Linked DNA regions of Homo sapiens. The protein of the gene in region 1 interacts with the protein of each later gene in a biochemical or structural test. Each region holds a gene or a part of one and is shown in the gene's direction. Other genes may lie near its edges.

What was found.
Region 2: of the proteins of RPS6KA5 (region 1) and ETV1, one has a biochemical effect on the other in vitro, tested with the Homo sapiens proteins (one study listed by BioGRID).

Annotation. Positions count from the first base shown.
Region 1 is NC_000014.9:90,868,618-90,875,918, reverse strand, and holds part of RPS6KA5 (ribosomal protein S6 kinase alpha-5), read left to right. Parts: intron 1-558; coding exon 559-718; intron 719-2,123; coding exon 2,124-2,287; intron 2,288-3,596; coding exon 3,597-3,845; 3' UTR 3,846-7,301. UniProt on the Homo sapiens protein: Serine/threonine-protein kinase that is required for the mitogen or stress-induced phosphorylation of the transcription factors CREB1 and ATF1 and for the regulation of the transcription factors RELA, STAT3 and ETV1/ER81, and that contributes to gene activation by histone phosphorylation and functions in the regulation of inflammatory genes.
Region 2 is NC_000007.14:13,890,705-13,895,943, reverse strand, and holds the end of ETV1 (ETS translocation variant 1), read left to right. Parts: coding exon 1-78; 3' UTR 79-4,715; downstream 4,716-5,239. UniProt on the Homo sapiens protein: Transcriptional activator that binds to DNA sequences containing the consensus pentanucleotide 5'-CGGA[AT]-3'. Required for olfactory dopaminergic neuron differentiation; may directly activate expression of tyrosine hydroxylase (TH).

The DNA of each region.
Region 1 (7,301 bases):
CCCCTCCCCCCACCCCACAACAGTCCCCGGTGTGTGATGTTCCCCTTCCTGTGTCCATGTGTTCTCATTGTTCAATTCCCACCTATGAGTGAGAACATGTGGTGTTTGGTTTTTTGTCCTTGCGATAGTTTGCTGAGAATGATGGTTTCCAGCTTCATCCATGTCCCTACAAAGGACATGAACTCATCATTTTTTATGGCTGCATAGTATTCCATGGTGTATATATGCCACATTTTCTTAATCCAGTCTATCGTTGTTGGACATTTGGGTTGGTTCCAAGTCTTTGCTATTGTGAATAGTGCCGCAATAAACATACGTGTGCATGTGTCTTTATAGCAGCATGATTTATAATCCTTTGGGTATATACCCAGTGATGGGATGGCTGGGTCAAATGGTATTTCTAGTTCTAGATCCCTGAGGAATCACGTAATCTTTTAAACTCAATCATGCTAGTTGTAGCAATTGGTAAATTACACCAGTTACGTTACTATTAGGATTATTAGAGTGGCTTTAACAGATCTGGGTAGTCATTCTGTTTTGTTACTTTTTCCCTGATAGTACACAATGTTGTCAGGACAGGTTCCCTTCCAATCTCATGACCGAAGTTTGACGTGTACCAGCGCGGTGGAAATCATGAAGAAAATTAAAAAGGGAGATTTCTCCTTTGAAGGAGAAGCCTGGAAGAATGTATCCCAAGAGGCTAAAGATTTGATCCAAGGTAAGAATCTAATGAAATTTTACATTTTATATGATGTGTAGTGATTGAAGTAGAATCATGGCCATTACACATACATTCATATGTTAATTACTCGAGGAATCCATGTGTATTCTAAAAGGCTTCCAGGCTACTCTCTTCAGCCTTGTTTTCTTATCAGAACATTCTCTTTAGTAATGGTATCCACATTTCTAACATGAGCTAGCACTTGACTTCCACTGGCATCTCAGTCAAGCACATCTAAAACAAACCAATACTTTTTGACTGTCCTTCCCCCCAAACACGCTCCTCCTCCTGTCTTTCCTCCTGTCAACAGTGGCACTGCTAAGAAGCCAGATCACCAAAACAGAAACCTAGGCGTCCTCCTGGATACCTGCACCTGCCTGCCTTCTGCAGCCAGTCACAGAGTTCTACACATTCAGCAGCGCTCCTAGCAGTCCGGTCCCTTCCTTCCCATTCACCTGCCGTTGCCTTTGTTCTCATCACCATTTCTCTCCCCAAATCCTGCAGCATCCTTTCACCTTGCCTCACTTCCTCTGACTTAAGCTGTTCATCATCTGTCAATAGAGGGACTTTTCTAGAATCCCTATGTGATTATGCCTCTTTTCTGCCAAAAATCCTTTGGAGACTCTCTGTTTGCTTCAGGTCAGACTCCTTAGCCTAGCATTTAACATTCAAAGCCCCTCATGACCTGGTCCTGTCTGCCTTTGTTTCCTCCTCACCCCAGCTCTGCCGTTGCAGGATATTTGAATTCCTCAGATATGCTGAGCTTTCAGATCCCTCCGTGTCTTTACATGCTCTTAATCCTCTTCCATAGCCACTTCTCCTTATCCTACAGGATTCATCTCCTAGAAGCCTTCCAGGATGCCCTCACTCCCTAGGCTACACTCTCCCTCAGGCCTGCTAACACACTGTGCCTGTGTATCTTGCTATCGCACTTATCCCTGATGTTATAATAGCTGGGGTTTTGCCTGTGTGTCTTCTGATATTAATAGCTCCTCTCTGCATCTCCATCTCCATATCTCTAGTGCCTTACTGCACTCCCTGACCTATAGAAGATGGCCAGTAAATGTTTGGTATATGGATGAAGTAGATCTGTGTGCTTTTTGCTCATTTGGAGCTTACGAAGTCACCAGTGGGAATCTTTGTTTTGGATGTTTATTTTCTCCTGATTGAAAAGCCACTTCGCCTGGAGCTTCCTAGAAATAGGCTACTGTGACTTTATCATTAGACTCCAGCATTCACAAAAGAATTTAAATGAATAGGAAAATCTAATTATCTTTGTAGGAGGTTAAAGCTATATAGAAACCATTATGTCATGTGAACATAGCTGAGATTTATTTCTGAGTTTGTTTTTAAACCATGTTTAAAATGACAAATCATAAAATAAAAATATCTATTCCCAAAGGACTTCTCACAGTAGATCCAAACAAAAGGCTTAAAATGTCTGGCTTGAGGTACAATGAATGGCTACAAGATGGAAGTCAGCTGTCCTCCAATCCTCTGATGACTCCGGATATTCTAGGATCTTCCGGAGCTGCCGTGCATACCTGTGTGAAAGCAACCTTCCACGTAAGGCCCTGTGCTCTGTACATGTTGGGCGGTTTGAGTAGGAATCATAATCAAATGTTCTTACTCTGTAGCCTCAGATACGTTTTCTTTGTTTCACATTTAAAATAATATGTGTCCTTTTACTTTTAGGTATGTTTTTATAAATTGCTTCATGGTTATAAACACTTTATAACAATAAGTGCACAGGGGACCAGAGTCACTGCTAACCCACAAAATACATATTTAATTTTTAGAATGACCTTATGAGATGAGATAATAGAACTTTTTCCTCTCAAATAGACTGACTAAATTTCTTTAAAAACCATAATAAACATTAGGAACTAAGGCATATTTGAAAGTCCATTCATTTTACAACCATTTAGTACATCACACATTCTTAAAACTGGGAGGGATATGAAGTAAGTTCATTGGTATTAAGTATAGATTGTATGTTTGAAAGACTGAGACTATTTGGTAGAAACTGTGGATTATGCACATTTGTGCCAAGCAGATGCAAATATATTAAGATAATTCATGTGAAGTATAGTATAAGATGAGTTAGGGAAACAGAAAGTCACCTTCAAAGGGATTATTTTGAGAAAGGAGAAGGTATAGGGATAGTGCTTCTTCAGCAGCAGAAATGGATTTAAAAAGTAATAAACTAGGAAATGTTGAGATGGTAAAGAGATTAACTGCAAGAATTTCTATCAGATGATCCAAATCTTCTCAGTGACATAGGTTGCAAGGTGACAACTACAAGGTGTAACTGCAGCATTATCCAAGCCTAGGCTAAGGAGAGTGAAGACAGGCTGCAGGAGGAGGAAGCCAGGGCAAAGCTGTAGAGCTGTGCTTCTCCATGCGTGTAAGTGTCCAGTATATATCCAAATGACATTGAATGGGACTGAAGAGCAAAGACTCAGAATGCGTCAAGTCTGCTTGCATTGGGACTTTGTGTTCAGAATTTTAAATCTTAGACACAGAACCAGTAAAAGCAATGGGGATAGTTTAGATTACTGATGGTCTTCAGGAATTTCCAGTCAATTGTTTCGTATTAGGATGTAGTACTAACTTCTTCAAAAGATTTATTAGAATTGTGACTCTCAGACCGCCTAGCTAGTTTGATATAAACAGAGCCCTCAGAATTTTTTTCCCATGAACTTCTCCACCCTGCCAATAGACTTAGATATAAAGGTTTTAAGAGCTTTGTTCCCTTAAAACAACTTGGGGCTGCAGTTGCCAATGGAAAGTTGTCTTCTGCTGTAAGTCATAACTGCTAGGAAAGCTTCAGTACTTTTACCTTCACAGGGGTTCCCTTTTTTTCCCCCGCCAGGCCTTTAACAAATACAAGAGAGAGGGGTTTTGCCTTCAGAATGTTGATAAGGCCCCTTTGGCTAAGAGAAGAAAAATGAAAAAGACTAGCACCAGTACCGAGACGCGCAGCAGTTCCAGTGAGAGTTCCCATTCTTCTTCCTCTCATTCTCACGGTAAAACTACACCCACCAAGACACTGCAGCCCAGCAATCCTGCCGACAGCAATAACCCGGAGACCCTCTTCCAGTTCTCGGACTCAGTAGCTTAGGCATGGTAGGAGTGTATCAGTGATCCATTGCACCTTTATTCCCTCAGCATATGCCTGAGGCGATCTTTTATGCTTTTAAAAATGTTTCCCGTTGGTCTCATTGGAATCTGCCTCCTAATGATTTTTTTCAGGAAAACCTGTTTGGTTATCCTCATTCAAAAGCACTGGACAGAGAATGTTACTGTGAATAGAGCACATATTACTCTTTTTAGCAACCTAGCATGATGCCAACAAGACTATTCTTGAAAGAGCAAAGGTTCCTGTAAATTTAATTAGGGCTAGATTTGAGCTGCTTGTAAGTCACAGGTTTTCCAGATGTCTGCCAACAAGAAATGACTCATACTGTGATGATACCTTTTGCTTTGCCTTGTGGACAATGTGGGTTTTTGAAATTTGCACCCTTCAAACAATGATTTATCAGAGAAAGGGGTCTGTTTTCAAAAAAGATTCTGTAATGAATTTTATGTGTGGCATATACTTATTTCTTGAGAGAAGATTTTAACTTATTGTTTTTATTTTATGGTTACATATGATGATAACCTGCTATTATTAAACTTTTTCTAAAAAGTGAAAAAAAAAAAAAAAGATATAAGAACTCAAGGTCCCATACTCTGTATTCGGGATCCATCTGAGATGCATGCTAAGCTATGTGTATGTTTTTAATTTTGCACTGCTCTTTCCTGGCAATTTGTTTTAATGGTTATTGCAGAATATTAAGGTACATGTCTCTCTGTTTTAAGTAATATTGCACTTTATAAAAAAGTATGAATAAAGCAAACTATTTTATAAAGTGCACTGTTTAAAGCATTTGCACTGTATTTTTGCCATTTATTTTCATTTTCTACTTTAAATTTGTCCTCACATTCCTCTTCTACTTTGTATGCAACAAGTAGAATGGGGCATGTTGTGTCATGTAGTCAGCCACTTATGCACCAATGTGAGGAAAACCTAAAGGGAAATTAAACTAAACACTGTGCTTCATATTTGTACACTGTGTTGTACTACAGTGAGGAATTTCCTCCTGTAGTCATATATTATGTACATAATATTTTAGAATCATACCTATGACTTGTTTGGAAATTTTTCTGTTAAATTTTAAATCCAGAAAGCATATTTTATAAACTTATGCAGAGCACTTTTATTGCTCAAAAGTTCTGAATTCATACAGAAAACAAGTACTATGTGATGAAAACATTTCATTAAAAGATTGCTGCATTTAAAAATACAATTAATTCGTTCCCTATGCAAAAAAAAAAAAAAAAAAAAAAGAAGTGATAGGGTTTGTGTGTTATATTTTCTTTTAAAGCCATCATGTGAAATGTCAGGACTGAGAAAAGTGATTTTTTTGCTTTGTTTACAGGAATCATGCTTAAAGAGATAATGCCCAACATGTTTATTTTATAGTTTTTGTTAATGATAACCTTTTGAGCATTAGTTTGGAATTTGGACATGATATTTATTTATTCCTTTCTTGAGGTTATAGCAGCATTAATTTCAACCAGTTATGAATACTAAAAATATTGCACTCTATGTAATAGTAGTATATTTATTACTAAATCAATGTATATATTAATAGCACAGGCAAAAAATGGCAAATATTAAAATATTTTCAAAATATTATATTATCCTGTTCACATTTTGTCCACAGTGGTTATTGGGAATAATATTTTACACTTTTTGCTGGCCCAAATGGCTACATAATATTGAGTTAATGAAAGTTTTCTACTCCCAGCTTTCAGTTATTCCTAGTAATTATGGGAAATTTTGTGTGAATTATTACCAAACTATTGCTAATTCACAAAATGTGATTCCATCAGGCACAGATCTCTAGTAATCAAGAAAATGACCATATTTATAATTATATTGGACATATTGGGAACATATTTGGCTCTTCAAGCCATTTTTTAAACTGTGCATCCTGGTAGAAAATACTAGTTATAAAGTACAAACTAAAGGGACTATGTTGCTAATAGAAAATGATCCAGAAAAATGGTCAGACAGTATACAGATTGATGATGTGATTGATTTCATTGTGAATATTGGAAATTAATGGGTTTCATTTTCATTTATTTCCCTTGCCTCTTCTTGAGGAGGATTCGACAGGCGATGAAATGGGTAAAAAGGCAGTCAGACTAACAGGAAGAAGGAAAGATAGGCTAGCTGTCAACTGATGAGCCTGCCTGAATAATCTCAAATGGGCTTTTGAAAAGACCTTAACAAACACTGTTGCACTCTTGTCAAATATCTTTATCTACACCCTACTTATAAGTACCAAAAAGACAGCATTTGATGCCAAGTTTGAAGCAGTTAGGTCCTATGCAGGCTGTGTATTAACATACAGTGAATTGCACTTTAAAATTCAGAAAGCTTTCATTTGGTCACATCAAAAATAAACACTACAAAATATATAAAAAGTTAAATGATAGGACTCTTTTTTTGGTATTAAGAGTAAAATAGAAGAAGATCTAAGAAATACAAATACTTACATTATTTCTCCTTATGACATTAACTTTGGGACTAGAGCCACACCACCCCCTCCCTTCTTCACTTACTGATTGTATTGCATATAATTTTCATGCCAACATAAATCCTGATTCATATATTTTGTAACTGTATATGACAAATTGAGAGGCAAGAATAAGAAAAGGAAGATAATAGAGGAAAGATGTTAAGAAAGACCAGTTTCTTCTAATTACTCTGCCAGATCGTGTGTCTGAAAGAGGTTAATTAGCATTTTGAAATTGATTGGCTGAGTGTGGTGGCTCAGGCCTGTAATCCTTGTGCTTTGGGAGTATAAGACTGGAGAATCACTTGAAACCAGGAGTTAGAGACCAACCTGGGCAACATAGTGAGACACTGTCTCTCCAAAAATAAAAATAAAAATTAGCTGAGCATGGTGGCTCATGGGAGGCCAACATGTGGAGGATCGCTTGAGCCCAGGAGTTCGAGGCTGCAGTGAGCTGTGATCACACCACTGCACTCCAGCCTGGGCAACAGAGCGAGACCCTGTCTTAAGAAAAAAAGAAATTCATTAATTCTTCCAAACCTTTATAAAGTAAGAAACCACTGAATTACTAGAATAGAAAGTCAGTCTCCTGAGTTAATTTCCACATTGTTGTCTGTCTTGGAGTCACAGGTTCATTACCCAAGAAAACTGCCTTTTAATTTTTTTAGATTACTGTTGATTTCTTAAGTATGTAAATGACTAACTTTTAAATATAAGGTAAGTTATTTTAAAGAAATCTACTAAGATAGAAGTCACTTTTTTTAAAGTAAGGAAATTCCTTTTGTATCTCAGTTTATGTTCTCAAATACACTACTTTATAAAAGTATACAATTGACTGGATACTTATTCACCTTGCCCCCATTTCAAGCGCCTGTTATTGTCATATTTATTAAAAACAGGGTACCTCATAATGGTGAAAATTTCTAAATTATTGGGTCTATATGTGCCTT
Region 2 (5,239 bases), on another chromosome or scaffold:
TTTGATGAGAGCATGGCCTACATGCCGGAAGGGGGCTGCTGCAACCCCCACCCCTACAACGAAGGCTACGTGTATTAACACAAGTGACAGTCAAGCAGGGCGTTTTTGCGCTTTTCCTTTTTTCTGCAAGATACAGAGAATTGCTGAATCTTTGTTTTATTTCTGTTGTTTGTATTTTATTTTTAAATAATAATACACAAAAAGGGGCTTTTCCTGTTGCATTATTCTATGGTCTGCCATGGACTGTGCACTTTATTTGAGGGTGGGTGGGAGTAATCTAAACATTTATTCTGTGTAACAGGAAGCTAATGGGTGAATGGGCAGAGGGATTTGGGGATTACTTTTTACTTAGGCTTGGGATGGGGTCCTACAAGTTTTGAGTATGATGAAACTATATCATGTCTGTTTGATTTCATAACAACATAAGATAATGTTTATTTTATCGGGGTATCTATGGTACAGTTAATTTCACGTTGTGTAAATATCCACTTGGAGACTATTTGCCTTGGGCATTTTCCCCTGTCATTTATGAGTCTCTGCAGGTGTACAAAAAAACCCCAATCTACTGTAAATGGCAGTTTAATTGTTAGAAATGACTGTTTTTGCACCACTTGTAAAAAGGTATTTAGCGATTGCATTTGCTGTTTGTTGTTTTATTTTGCTTTATATATGACTTGCAGAGGATAACCATAAAATGGGTAATTCTCTCTGAAGTTGAATAATCACCATGACTGTAAATGAGGGGCACAATTTTGGACTCTGGCGCCAAACTGAGTCATAGGCCAGTAGCATTACGTGTATCTGGTGCCACCTTGCTGTTTAGATACAAATCATACCGTCTTTTAAATATTTTGAAGCCCATTTCAGTTAAATAATGACATGTCATGGTCCTTTGGAATCTTCATTTAAATGTTAAATCTGGAATCAAAATGAAGCAAAAAATATCTGTCTCCTTTTCACTTTCTTCAGTACATAAATACATTATTTAATCAATAAGAATTAACTGTACTAAATCATGTATTATGCTGTTCTAGTTACAGCAAACACTCTTTAAGAAAAATATCCAATACACTAAATAGGTACTATAGTAATTTTTAGACATGGTACCCATTGATATGCATTTAAACCTTTTACTGCTGTGTTATGTTGATAACATATATAAATATTAGATAATGCTAATGCTTCTGCTGCTGTCTTTTCTGTAATATTCTCTTTCATGCTGAATTTACTATGACCATTTATAAGCAGTGCAGTTAACTACAGATAGCATTTCAGGACAAAATAGATGACTCAAACCATTTATTGCTTAAAAAATAGCTTACGCCATGCTATGCTATAAGCAGCTTTTATGCACATTGACAAATGAAGAGTAAGCTTCAGCTTGCTAAAGGAAACTGTGGAACCTTTTGTAACTTTTGGTGATATGGAAAATTATTTACAAACCGTCAAAGAATATGAGGAAGTTGCTGTATGACATAGTGCTGGCACTGATATTATCCATCATCTCTTTTTGGACACTTCTGTAAATGTGATTGGATTGTTTGAAAGAAGATTTAAAGTTTCAAAGTTTTTTGTTCTGTTTTTGCTTTGCATTTGGAGAAAATATTGAAAGCAGGGTATGTTGTTTCATTCACCTTGAAAAAACCATGAGTAAATGGGGATATAGAATCTCTGAATAGCTCGCTAAAAGATTCAAGCAAGGGACATGAATTTTGTTCCATCTATCAATAATATCCAGAAGAACAACTTTTTTAAAGAGTCTATAGCAAAAAGCAAAAAAAAAAAAAAATTCTAAACACAAAGTCAAAATAAACCTATTGTAAAAGCATTTCGTGATGAGCATGAAAAAGATTGTTTAAAGATGATCCCCCCAGCTACCCATTTTCCAAAACTACACAGATCACAGCTCATTTCTCTAAGTGGAGCAGTTATCAAGAAACCCAAACACCAAAATTGCTACTCTTCACATTTAATCCTACAAAAAGTACTCCAATTTCAAAATATGTATGTAACCTGCGATTTCAATGATTGTTGTTCATATACATCATGTATTATTTTGGCCCATTTTGGGCCTAAAAAAGAAAACTATGCCTTAAAAATCAGAACCTTTTCTCCCCACTATGCTTATGTGGCCATCTACAGCACTTAGAATAAAAACAGATGTTAAAATATTCAGTGAAAGTTTTATTGGAAAAAGGAATTGAGATATATAATTGAGATTTGGTGAAATTGAAGGAGAAAATTTAAGTGAGTCTTTAAAATATATTCTGAATGAAAACTGTATTGAGGATTCATTTTTGTTCCTTTTTTTTCTTTTTCTCTTTTCTCCTTTTTCTTCTTTTTAATAGTCTAGTTTTAGTCAGTCAGTGAGGAAGAATTGGGCCATGCTAACGTTATCACAAGAGAACAATGGCAGAAATGGTATTAGTTATATAATATTTAAGGACAAACTATATGTTTTGCTGTTTTAACGTAGTGACTCACTGAACTAAATACATAATTGACCAACATTAAGTGTATTTCCAATACAGAAGGGTTGAAAATATTACATTATAAACTCTTTTGAAAAATGTATCTAAAATTTTTTAAGTTCTGTTTTGATTCCACTTTTTGGTTGAGTTTTTATGTTTTTGTTTTCAGGTAGATTAATAAATCTGGCAGCTGATTTCTGCAAGATTCTTGTGTTTTGAATTTCTCATTGAATTGGCTACTCAAACATAGAAATCATTTGTTAATGATGTAATGTCTTCTCTCAGCTTTTATCTTCACTGCTGTTTGCTGTCTCTTGATGATGACATGTTAATACCCAATAGATTAATTGCAACAAACACTTATACTCAAATAACTAAGTAAAAATAATTTTTCTTGTTATGTCCATGAAAAGTGCTTCAGAATAAAAATCCACAAGACTGACAGTGCAGAACATTTTTCTCAAATCATGGGCGGATCTTGGAGGTCTAGTTTCCCGTAGATGCTGTAACCAATTACCACAACTTCAGTAATTTACACAAATTTATCTTATAGTTCTGGAGGCAGAAGTTCAAAAGAAGCCTTAAGAGACTAAAACCAAGATGTCCTTAGGTCTGGTTCCTTCTGGAGGCTCCAGGGGAGATTCTTCCAGCTTTCACTTCTAGAGTCTGCTGACATTCCTTGGCTCCTGGCTACATCACTTCAATCTCTGCTTCCATGGTCACATACTCTTCTACTATAGTCAAATTTCCTTCCTGCCTCTTATAAGGATGCTTGTGATTACATTTAGGGGATGCTCAGATAATCCAGGACAATCTCTCCATCTCAAGATCCTTAACTTAATGACGTGTGCCAAGTCCCTTTGGCTAGATAATTATTCATAGGTCCCAGGGATTAGGACATGGATGTAAGGGGTGAGGGCAGGGCTGTTATTCAGAACACCGCACGGAGGAGGAAGACTGTGTAGCAAAGACTCTAATTGATTTACTCAGGAACAGTGGAGTTCTGCTGAGGGATCTAGGATTTGAAAGTACTAGAGTTTGCTTTTATTTACCACTGAGATATTTTCCCCTTATTCTGCATAAATAATTTTGAAAACTTTCTATATTAAATTTCAACTATTCCACTAAAATGTCTGGTAATCACATCAAGCCTTTAGATTATTCAAATCCTTCCCCAGCCCCCAGGAAAACACTAAGTCATGAAACAGAAAAACAGAAGGTATGATAATAATAGTAATAACAGTTAAATCAGTGGTCTAATCCAGATTTTATTTTTTAATACATTTCTTTTGGTGTTAATATGGGTTACTATGTGATCTTATCATTTGCTAGTGATTATTACTTATTAGGTAAGAACAATGTGTAAAATATGTCTATTACTCAAAAGAACAATTGCAAAATGAGTCAACTTATCTTTATATAACCAGGAAAGAAATATATTGCCAGAAGCTACAGAATTTTGCCAGATGATAGGGATTTCTAAAATGAGCCACTTTGTCTATCATGCAGCCTTTTCAGAGCTTGTAATGAGAAAACATTACAGAGGAGAAGGTCATTTGGATGTTTGTTACTTGGAATCCTAGAAAACAAAAACTAAAATTTAAAAATAAGAAGTGAGTAAGCTATTTTCCATTTGCGATTTGGTATGGAGAAGAGAGGAAATAGAATTATTAAAAAAATACAAATTGGGTAAAAGTGATGGTGGAAAAAATATAAAGAAGGCAAATGTACATATTAAGCAATTCTACTAAGAATTGGAAAAATCAAGTTTCAAAAAGATGGTAATAGTTGGGCATGATACTAGAAAATTTCACCCAGTTTATTCAGAGCTCAACTAGTACTTTTAGGACTTCTTTTTTTATATACATGAGACTCACTTTGACATACTTAAAAAAAAAACAGTTTATGGAAAGTACAGTTTAAGAGGAGAATTTGATTAGACTAAGTGGATATCTTTATAGAAATATTAATGATTTCAGAATTTTCAGTTACAAGTGTATATACCGTGGCTATTGTTTATGGATTCATATGTAAGGTAGGGTCTTTTTTGCATATAGACTCCAGTATTAGTTACTTTCATTCTAAAATTATATTTATGCTTCTATGGGGAAGAAAATTTTTAATTCACTTGGTTGTATTAAAATTATACTTACGGTTTGAGAAAACATGCTATGAAAATCATGATTATAGCAAATTAAATATGCTCAAAATTTAAATCTAAAATAAAAGCCCAGAAACTGAAAATATTGGACTGTCGTGATCACTCTGAAAGGTAGCACATCTAAAACTGATAAACGTCATCTAAATTTTTGACTGTCTTCTAATCATCGTGTCATTTTTAATAGTTTATGACCACAGCACTCAAGTAATGTGTTTGCACTACTTTGCCATATATTATTCTTTTAGATAATTTAGATACCAGGACACCTGATAAATCCTTTTTGAGTTCTACGTTCTAATCTCTGTAAATATCTTGTTTCACATAAATCCTTCAATAAATGTATCATGGAGAAATTTGGGGAAGGGAACTAACTAAATTATTTCAGTGACTCCCACATGCCAGACAGCACAGATATGTGAATTATGTTACTGCCTCCAAATTGCTTGGTTTTGTCTGGTGAGAAACTGAAGCTAATGGCAAAACCAGTATGTCTTGGTGTCAAGATGTCGTGGTCACAGGCAAATCATGAACCCTACCTTTTGGGGAACTTGGACCTAGCTACTTTTCTGATTTAATTTCTAATGACAAAAATATCTATAATAATAAC